2 linked regions of the Homo sapiens genome follow. The protein of the gene in region 1 interacts with the protein of each later gene in a biochemical or structural test. Each region holds a gene or a part of one and is shown on either strand. Other genes may lie near its edges.

Region 1 (5,416 bases):
CACTAACGAGGTGGGATTGACTGGGGAACTTCTTTTCTTTCTCTTTTTTTTTTGAGACAACTCTCAATCTGTCACCCAGGCTGGAGTGCAATGGTGTGGTCTCAGCTCACTGCAACCTCCGCCTCCTGGGTTCAAGCGATTTTCCTGCCTCAGCCTCCCAAGTAGCTGGGACTACAGGCATGTGCCACCATGCCTGGCTTGTATTTTTAGTAGAGACGGGGTTTCACCTAAGGCAGGGGATCCACCTGCCTTGGCCTCCCAAAGTGCTGGATTACAGGTGAGAACCACCGCGCCCAGTCTTTTTTTTTTTGTGAGACAGAGTTTAGCTCTCGTTGGCCAGGCTGGAGTGCAATGGCGCAATCTCAGCTCACTACAACCTCTGCCTCCCGGGTTCAAGTAATTCTTCTGCCTCAGCCTCCCGAGTAGCTGGGATTACAGGCATGTGCCACTACGCCCGGCTAATTTTGGATTTTTAGTAGAGACGCGGTTTCTCCATGTTGGTCAGGCTGGTCTTGAACTCCCGACCTCAGGTGATCCACCCACCTTGGCCTCCCAAAGTGCTGGGATTACAGGCGTGAGCCACCATGCCTGGCCGACTGGGGAACTTTCTAAAACATTTGCAAGGCCAGTTTTAGACAGTGAAACTTATTTTGAAGATCTCTAGCCAATCAGCAGAGAGAAATACGCCTGTTTTCTGGAGACCACCCTTGAGATCTTGGAATTTACAGTGTTTTTGAAATGGAAAATCTCAGGATTAAAACAATAAAGCTATGGGGGGTGAGAGCAGGGGAAGACAGAATTATCAATGCTTAGATCAGCGCATTCACCCAGGAGAAAGTAGTTACAATTGATGCATGGAAAGTGGAAAAAATAAAAGTTATTGTGGGGCTATAGACAGGGGACATAAGAGCAGCAGGGGTGGCTTCTATCCCATTTCAGAAATTGCAAGAAGGGAAGAGGCTTGAAGAAATTATTGCTTCCTCCTTGTCAGGAAGCAAGTCTGAATCCTGCAAAAGATGCTCAGACATCAAGAGACTATTGTCATTTTTACACATGAAACCATCAGATTCCCCACCATGGCCTTACACTTTGAATGGGGGAGATATAACAAGGTGAGTTTCTTTTACAAAGACCCTTCCAGATAGCATCTATTCCTATAATGGCAGTGTGAGGAAGCTATATTAAGTGAATGCTGGGTATGTTGGCATATTGATATTGTCTAACTCCTTCCTTCTGAAGGGTAGGGAAAAACTGAGCATTTCCCACCCTGGGGTCAGGTCTAGTGCTTGCAAGAGACCTTATGCTGAAGCTTGCCCATTTGATAGAGGGTGGCAGGCTGGGCTTTAGGGTCAACCCAGAGCTAAAGGACTATGCTAATAGTGTCCCATGGTCTAGGTCATTTGACTCCTCTCCTCTCAGAGGACCCCACACAGATCCTTTTGCGTGTCTGTCCTGAAGCTGAGGATCTAGGGCTGCCCATCAGTAGTGAGCCTTTGGAAGGGAAGAGATGCTGGCCGACAAGAACTGCTACCCTCCCAACACCTTCCAAGATGGGAAGCTGCTTCTCCCAAGGGAAGGACAGACCACTATCAGAGTACCTGAGTCTGGATACGGTTCAGGCCCCGGAACCAGAGGATCTGGCCTCGGCGCAGCTCCATCTCAGCATGGTCAATCTCATCCAGTCCCTCGGCATCCTTGGTGATCTCCTCTTTGGTGGTGCCATGCCCAGCCTCCTTCAGGAACTTCAGGGATCGGGTAGGTATTGCGGAGATGAACTGAAAACAAGCGCAGCGAAGAGGAAGACGTCAGAATCAGCGTGAGAAGAGCTGTCAGTCAACTTACATGAGCCAGGCCCTTGGGCAGGTTACTCTTTGCCCTACCACCCTTCCCACTGGAAGAGCAGTGGGCAGAAGCACCAATCCATCCAGGCAAGCATTCTCCAAGTGCCCACCAGCGGTCAGGCTTTTAGGAAGGTTTTCTGTATTTATGGACACACACAAAAGAGAGCTTCTATTCTAGTAATTGACCAGCCATCTGCCTGGTCATATACTTCATTTTCCTCTTTCTGTCTCATTTCTTCTGTTCCATTTTGCAATCTGTCTTTTAAGGTTAACAGAACTATACAGCATGGTACGCAGTAGGAAGAAACAGAGACCAGGACCTGGGGGAAAAGAGTTTGGGGAGAAGATGGTGATATTGCCTATGTATAGGCAAGGGGTTGAGAAGGGTATTGGAAATGAATGACCCCTTTCTTAGTTGCCACATGCAAAGTAGTTTCTGTGTTACAAACTCTTGTGAAAGGATACCAAAAGTTTTCTTGGGCTTGAGGTGAGGAAGTGGATGGGACAGTCCATAGAAGAGGGGTCACATGAGTATTATCAGAAGACAAGGAGCAGTACATAGGGTTTGAAATTTGAAATAAATTTCCCGGTGAGCTCAGCACCTGTCAGTCAGTTCTTTCCGGACAAGATAAGGAGTAGCCAGGGCTCATGTGGGGAAGAGGGACTGTATGGGCAATCTGATATGGAGTCAAGGGTTTTGAAATGGGAAGAATGCCAGAGCTCTGCCTCTGAATGTGGAAAAAGCTGTTGTGATACAGAAGGAAGGCTGCTGTCTGGCAGCAAGGCCACATGGCCACATGTGAGGCAAGAGCCAGAACAGAGTTTCAAACAACAGGTTTAACAACCAAGCTTTACCAAAGCATAAAACTGCTTTAGGAACCCATTGGTAAAAAAAAAAAAAAAGAAATCTTCACCAAACAGAACAGGGTGGAGGGAATTGGGTCAGACATTAATTAGGGAGGGCTGGGTGCAGCGGTTCATGCCTGTAATCCCAGCACTTCGGGAGGCCGAGGCAGGAGGATTGCTTGAGCCCAGGACTTTGAGATCAGCCTGGCAACATAGTGAGACCCCAATCTCTTTATTTTTTGTTTTTCGACATAGAGTCTCACTCTTGTCATCCAGGCTGGAGTGCAGTGCCGTGATCTCAGCTCATTGCACTCCGCCTCCCGGGTTCAAGCAATTCTGCTTCAGCCTCCCAAGTAGCTGGGATTACAGGCATGTGTCACCATGCCCGGCCAATTTTTTTTTTTTTTTTTTGTATTTTTAGTAGAGACAGGGTTTCACCATGTTGGCCAGGCTGGTCTCGAACTCCTGACCTCAGGTGATCTGCTCGACTCAGCCTCCCAAAGTGTTGGGATTATAGGTGTGAGCCACTGCGCCTGGCCTGAGACCCCCATCTCTTAAAAAAAAAAAAAAAAAAAAAAGAAAAGAAAAGAAAAGAAAAAGAAATTATTCAGGGAGGCATCTAGGTATGAAATAAATAACTAGCAGGTTTAGGGGAGAAGGCCTGCAGCTCCAGAAATGGCTCTTTGAGGCCAGTTAGGGCAAAGTGTCCATTACCTGGGTGGCTGGACACTAAGGGATTATCTGCAGAGACCTGGGGTCTGTAAAGAGAGGTATAGCCCAGGCCAGAGCTGAGGATGAGGGAGGTTTGTAAAGTGGTATTAAGGAAGAAGTGAAACTATTAGACTTAATGATACTATTATAATCGTAATAGTTTAAAATTTGATTATTTATAAGGAATAAGACATTATTCATTACTGTATAGTAACTGATTCACTAATTAACAATGACCTTGTTTTCCTAAGCTGAAGACACTGAGACACAGATTGGTTATGTAACTTGCCCAAGATGATTCAGCTTATAAAAAGGAGAGCTGAGGCTGGGCACGGTGGCTCAGGCCTGTAATCCTAGCACTTTCGGAGGCCATGGCGGGTGGATCACCTGAGATCAGGAGTTTGAGACCAGCCTAGCCAACATGGTGAAACCCTGTCTCTACTAAAAATACAAAAAATTAGCTGGGCGCGGTGGTGGGTGCCTGTAATCCCAGCTACTTGGGAGGCTGAGGCAGGAGAATTGCTTGAACCTGGAGGGTGGAGGTTGCAGTGAGCCAAGATTGCACCATTGCACTCCAGCCTGGGCAACAAGAGCTGGGCCAGGTGCGGTGGCTCACACCTGTAATCCCAGCACTTTGGGAGGCCAAGGCAGGCAGATCACGAGGTCAGGAGTTCCAGACCAGCCTAGCCAACAAGGTGAAACTCCGTCTCTAGTAAAAATACAAAAATTAGCCAGGTGCGGTGGTGGTTGCCTGTAATCCCAGCTACTTGGGAGGCTGAGGCAGGAGAAATTGCTTGAACCCAGGAGGCAGAGTTTGCAGTGAGCCGAGATCACACAACTGCACTCCAGCCTGGGTGACAGAGCAAGACTCTGTCTCAGAAAAAAAAAAAAAAAAAAAAAAAAACAGAGAGCTGGATTCAAACCCAGGCAGTCATTCCCAGAGTCCATGCTCTGAACCACAGGCCATACTGCTACTCTAGAGATCTTGTAAATCTGAATTTATCTCAGGTAAGAGTTAAGAATTCCACCCAGATAAAGCCATGGCAAGAAAGAGAAGAGGCTGGAAACCCTGAATTATGTCAGCTCGACAGCCCATAGCCAGGTTGCTGCCTCATGAGAATAAAGACATGTGTCTTGTAAACTCTTCTACTTCTAAGACCCTTATTATATATTTTTTTTTTGTAGCAAAATTCCATTGAAAAGTTTGGTTTCTGTCTCAGAGAAGCTAAGGGATTTTTCTTTTTTTTTTCTTTTTGACACTGAGTCTTGCTCTGTCGCCCAGGCTGGAGTGCAGTGGCGCAATCTCGGCTCACTGCAAGCTCCACCTCCCAGGTTCACGCCATTCTCCTGCCTCAGCCTCCCGAGTAGCTGGGACTACAGGCACCTGCCACCATGCCCAGCTAATTTTTTGTATTTTTAGTAGAGACGGGGTTTCACCATGTTAGCCAGGACGGTCTTGATTTCCTGACCTCGTGATCTGCCTGCCTCGGCCTCCCAAAGTGCTGGGATTACAGGTGTGAGCCACTGCGCCCAGCCAAGCTAAGGGATTTTTCTACCTCCAGGCTTAGTTAGAGAAGAATTCTGAAACCTCTGAAGTGATCATTCCACCTTGAGATCCTATGAGATGGCAAGAACTTGAAAACTTGAGTGGGGGTGGGGAGGGAAGAGGAGAAGATGAAGATGAGGAGCTGGGGGGTCTCCACCGTTGCTTGTTCCATCTCATGTAGAGGAGGGGAGTTCTGCAGGCTGTGAGAATGCACCAGGAGGGTGTGCCGGTACTCACCTGGCCCCACAGAAGTTCTCCAATCCCAATGAAGAGACACCACAGCCACTGAGACAGGCTGAGGCTTGTACAACTGAAGGGTTTACCCCCAAATTCCACGATGAAAATCTAGAACAGAGAAAGGGGCAGCCCACCATCAAGGAAATGACTAACAGGCAGCTGGCCCTCCAGCCAAGGCCCCCAAAGCCACATCATCCCACTCCTCAGGATCCTTGGGTACAAGTCCCGATTTGCT
Region 2 (5,416 bases), on another chromosome or scaffold:
CATGTGGTGTGATGACAGAGGAATGAAATTGATTTTTACCAGACACTGCAGAAATAAACATTAGCTCTTTTAGCTCAGTAAGTGCACAGAAACCGTGTTAGGGTTAAGGTCAACCTGGAAGGAAATTTCAAACACATGCCTACCAATTTATTGATGGCTTAGATCAGGATCTTGTAGGCAAGGCAAGGGGAGGGATGACAGAGTCCGGGAGCTAAAATATATTGAAGGGCTAAATTGATGTGCCTAGAGTAAGGCATTTGGGTCCGAAAAAACTGATTTCTCATCTAGAAAATGTGAAGAATGTGACTTGGTAGCAATATATTTGATCAAAGTTTTGGGGGTCTGGCTGATACAATTGTTTCAAATCTTTCTTGTTAGTATTGGATGCCCACTGACATCCCAGAGGCCAATTCAGTTTCCAAGCAAAGGAAAATTGATCTTTCTCTTCTGCCAGGAATAGCTTCCTATACCCCCAAAGTCCTATTCAGGTCTTGGGGTACACACTGCCCAGTGGGCCTCTTTCTTATCATCTCAGTTAGAATCCTTTTCTCCCTCTATATATTTTGCAACTTTAACAGTTCAGTTTTTTGGCAATATATTGAACATATTTAAAGTATACAAATTTATCAGTTTTGATATCTGTAAACATCCCATGAAACTATCACTACAATCAAGAAAAACATATTCTTAGCCAGGTGTGGTAGCTCACACAGGTAATCCCAACACTTTAGGAGGTTGAGGCGGGCAGATCACCTGAGGTCAGGAGTTCGAGACCAGCCTGGCCAACATAGTGAGATCTCATCTCTATCGAAAATTTAAAAATTAGTTGGGCGTGGTGGCGGGCGCCTGTAATCCCAGCTACTTGGGAGGCTGAGATAGGGGGATTGCTTGAATCCAGGAGTTCCAGGCTGCAAGGAGCCAAGATTGCACCACGGCACTCCAGCCTGGGAGACAGAGAGGGACCTTGACTTTAGAAGAATAAAAATAAAAAATAAAAAATAAAAATGGCTGGGTGCTGCGGTGGCTCACACCTGTAATCCTAGCACTTTGGGAGGCTGAGGCAGGCAGATCACTTGAGGTCAGGAGCTTGAGACCAGCCTGGCCAACCTGGTGAAACCCTGTCTCTACTAAAAACACAAAAAATTAGCCAGGCGTGGTGGCAGGCGCCTGTAATCCCAGCTACTCGGGAGGCTGAGGCAGGAGGATCACTTGAACCGGGGAGGCAGAGGTTGCAGTGAGCTGAGATTGCGCCACTGCACTCCAGCCTGGGTGACAGGGCGAGACTCCGTCTCCAAAAAAAGAAAAACATATTCATTACCTCCAGAATTTCCTCATGCCCCTCTGTAATTCCTCCCTCCCTCCACCCCCATCTTGCATTTTCCAGAAGTTTATGTAAATGGAATCATATAGCGTGTTCTCTTTTTTGCCTGGCTTCTTTCACTCAGCATAATGATCTTGTGTTTCATCCATACTGCTGCATATATCAATAGTTTGATCCTTTTTATTGCTGAGTGGCATTCCATTGTATGGCTATATCACAATTTATTGATCTATTTACCCACTGATGAAACTTCAAAAAAATGTTAGCCATTCTAATAGGTGTGACCACTGAGATTCTAATTTTGTTACTGCATGTTTCCCCCTGGATGTTCCTCTGGTTCTTTTTAAAATCTGCTATGTCATTAACATTTTTTTTCTGCTCTCTGAAGATATTTTACAAGCTTATTATTGATTTTTAAAAACCTGGGCTAGGCGTGGTAGCTCACACTTGTAATCCCAGCACTTTGGGAGGCTAAGGTGGAAGGATCACTTGAGCCTAGGAGTTGGAGATCAGCCTGGGCAACATAGTGAGACCTCATCTCTACAAAAAAAAAAAAAAGAAAAAGAAAAAAATTAGCTGGGTGTGGTGGTGCACGCCTGTTGTCCCAGCTACTGGGAAGGCTGAGGTGGGTGGATTGCTTGGGTCCAGGAGGTCGAGGCTGCAGTGAGCCATGATCATGCCATTGCACTCCAGCCTGGGCGAGAGCACAATACCTTGTCTCAAAAACAAACGAACCAACTTCGTAAGCTTATTTTTAAAATCTTTGTCTCTTAATTCCAATATATGCAGTAGGTTTGGGTTTGTTTCTACTATCTGTCATTTCTGTTGGGTCTTACTTGTTTCCTTGTGTGCCTGATAATTTTGACTTGCTGGCTACTGCCCTGGAAAAAGTTTATGTCGGGCGGATAGGATGAAGTTAGTGGGGGTTAGGATAAAAGTGTTTGCCTTCAGAGACTTTCTGTTTATACCATACATCTGAAACTATTAGTAAAGAAAGGGGAAACTTCAAATCAAGTACATGGCTTCAGCTCCCCTGGCTGCCCCAGGCTGTGTGTACCTGGGTGCAAATCCATTCAAGGTGGACTGGTGGCCACAATTTGGAAGTTTGTTCCCAATTTCCTCATCTTTTGCTTTGCTCAGTGACAAGGCAGCTTTCTCTATAGTCCTCCGGTGTTGAAGGGAAATAAGGGTATGCTTATCTGTTTCCTTTTAGCCTGGGGGGACTGCCTCTTGCACTCCTAACAATGAGGAGGGTCTTCTAACAGATTCCCCAACTTGTACTGGCCTTAGATCTTAACCTTGGTTCTCTGGCACAGAAGTGTTCAGTAATGACAAATGCCCTGTTTGCAAAATGGGCCACTTGGTAACTCTGATATTCCACTTATCATTCTTATTAAAGGCTTTCACATAAAAATTGGTCACTGAGGCCTGGTGTGGTGGCTCACACCTGTAATCCCAGCACTTTGGGAGGCCAAAGTGGGTGGATCACGAGGTCAGGAGTTCACGACCAGCCTGGCCAACATGGTGAAACCCTGTCTCTACTAAAAATATGTGGTGGCGGGTGCCTGTAATCCCAGCTACTCAGGAGGCTGAGGCAGGAGAATTGTTTGAACCCAGGAGGTAGAGGTTGCAGTGACCTGAGATCATGCCATTGCACTGCAGCCTGGGCCACAGGGCGAGACTCCGTCTCAAAAAAAAAAAAAAAAAAAAAAAAAATTGGTCACTGAGCTCCCCAGTACCTTTTTTTATTTCCCGGACACAGAGTCTCACTCTGTCGTCCAGGCTAGAGTGCAGTGGCGCGATCACGGCTCACTGCAACTTCCACTTCTCGGGCTCAAGCAATTCTCCTGCCTCAGCCTCCCAAGTAGCTGGGATTATAGGTGCCTGCCATCACACCTGGCTAATTTTTTTTTTTTTTTTTATTTCAAGTAGAGACAGGGTTTTACCATGTTGGTCAGGCTAGCTTCGAACTCCTGACCTCAAGTGATCTGCCCACCTCGGCGTCCCAGAGTGCTAGGATTACAGGTGTGAGCCACCATGCCTGGCCCCTGATACCTTTTCAGCTATTCAGTGCTTTCAAGGTCATTTGAAAAACATATTTTCTGCGGCACTTTTCATTTTTTTTCATCAGGAGGATTTATCCAAATAATCTCATCCACCATTACAGGAAATAGGAAGCAAATCTGCTTTTTGCACTGCCATCACTCAGGATTCCTCCAGAGGACTCAGAGTTCTAGAAATTGGTGAAACATTTATATAGATGATCTGACTAGGCAGAAGAGGTCTGGAATCTACACAATTATTTTCAATAAATGCCCATAATATATGGTAACATTAAAGAAGACATTCTGTAAAATGTAAATATCAGTAAGAATATAATGGCATCATCACGGCAACGACTTAAAGATTGCTTTCCTCCTGCTTATGCTTGAACTGTTTCTCGAAGATCAGACTGAAAGACAATGCCAGATGGAAGGCTGCTGCTTCTCCATTTGGGCCCACGTTTCCTTATGTATAAAATGATGGCATCTGAAGTCCTCATCAGCTCCAACATTCTAAATTTAATACTATTTTTTGGGGAAACATGGGATAGCTGAAAGAGGCGATCAAGCAAAAGAGATTAACTGAGAAATCTCTTAACTAGTGAGAAAAATAGATAAAAGCAGGTAGAAATTTCTATGGACTCAATGTCTTTGGTCTCTTTTAGCTGGGTTCAAGTATTTTAGGAGGAACTGGCAGGATGCTTAATGGCTGTTATTTTTTGCCACATGAAACAAAACTCAGACATTATCTCTTTTGTGCTAGAAATAATCTGGTATATTGCCCAAGTACCAACAAAGGTAAAACCATCAATATTTTCCAAAAGACAGTTCAACTAAGGAAACGGTAACAATAATAGCAGAAATAGATTTTATCAAAATATACAGTGATCTGTGACTCCTTTTCTCTCAGTTAAAAACAGTGCCTAAAACCCCTAACTTTAGCCTGCTTTTAGGGCTTAAACTTTCTAGCAGAAAAGGTATTTTTAAAGGACTGGCAAGGTAAAGAACAAAGCTTCTGACTACCTCCTTCTAACAGTGAAATACATTTTATCTTCAAATACTCTGAGTGACACTGAAGCACTGCACCTACATTTTTTGCTGGTGGTGGGAATGGGATGGGCATGAAAGCATGTAGAAGGGCAAGGAGAACGTACATTTTTTTAATGCCATTCTAAAACAATTATAACAGCATATAGGAGTGGAGGGCTCTGCTGTGAGACCATGACTTGGCTCAGGGCTGCTCATCCAATCTCTTTCCAGACCTTCCTTTCTTTTTGTGTAAAATGAAGCCCTGACTCTGCAACTAGGATCTCACTAGATACTGAAGATATAGAATTCTTGGATGACTAATTTAAATTTTGTTTGGCTCGTAAAGGAAGGAATATATCAAACAGGTTTTACACTCTAAAATAATATAAAATTGGAAAATGGATGGTCAGGGCTTTGTTTTTATAACCAAGCAAAGCAAAACACGCATAAAAACATACCATTCCTGAAGTTCAGGAGAAGGAATGAGACCTGCAGTTCCATTTTTGGAGTTTTCCAGTTTACCCTGCCACCAATTATGATCATCCTTACTAATAATCTGGATGATGTCACCAACTCTGAATCGAATGCCAGCTTCTTTACAGGGGATGAGGTCATCCTTGGCTGGATCATATTCAAATTGTGCTCTTACATAGATCTATAAAACAGGAGTTCGTAAGAAAGGATGCCATAGTGATGTGAAAGAGAAGTTAGCTCTAATGTCATAACCACACACCAACAGTTACAATACAAACAGGACATCAGATGGTGAAAGCAAAAACGATGCATGGAAATACGACACAAAAAACTTCTACCGCTAGAAACAATGTACTAGTAATCTTTGATGAGTATAGCTTCAAAACTTTGCTGTTTTTATTTGGAAGGAACACTTGAAATACTTGTTTAATAAAAATAAAGACTTAATTTATGCTTTTACTGTAACAGAATAGGCCTCTAATTATAGAAAAGTATGCTCGCTCTTTTTTAAACCTGCATTGGTGATGCTGGCATTATGGATACGTTGTCA

What was found. The genes of interacting proteins can lie anywhere in the genome.
Region 2: the proteins of ATP2B4 (region 1) and CASK form a complex in vitro, tested with the Homo sapiens proteins (2 studies listed by BioGRID and IntAct, with this or other methods).

Annotation. Positions count from the first base shown.
Region 1 is NC_000001.11:203,723,754-203,729,169, reverse strand, and holds part of ATP2B4 (plasma membrane calcium-transporting ATPase 4), read right to left. Parts: intron 5,290-5,416; coding exon 5,182-5,289; intron 1,776-5,181; coding exon 1,599-1,775; intron 1-1,598. UniProt on the Homo sapiens protein: Calcium/calmodulin-regulated and magnesium-dependent enzyme that catalyzes the hydrolysis of ATP coupled with the transport of calcium out of the cell. By regulating sperm cell calcium homeostasis, may play a role in sperm motility.
Region 2 is NC_000023.11:41,548,869-41,554,284, forward strand, and holds part of CASK (peripheral plasma membrane protein CASK), read right to left. Parts: intron 5,048-5,416; coding exon 4,851-5,047; intron 1-4,850. UniProt on the Homo sapiens protein: Multidomain scaffolding Mg(2+)-independent protein kinase that catalyzes the phosphotransfer from ATP to proteins such as NRXN1, and plays a role in synaptic transmembrane protein anchoring and ion channel trafficking.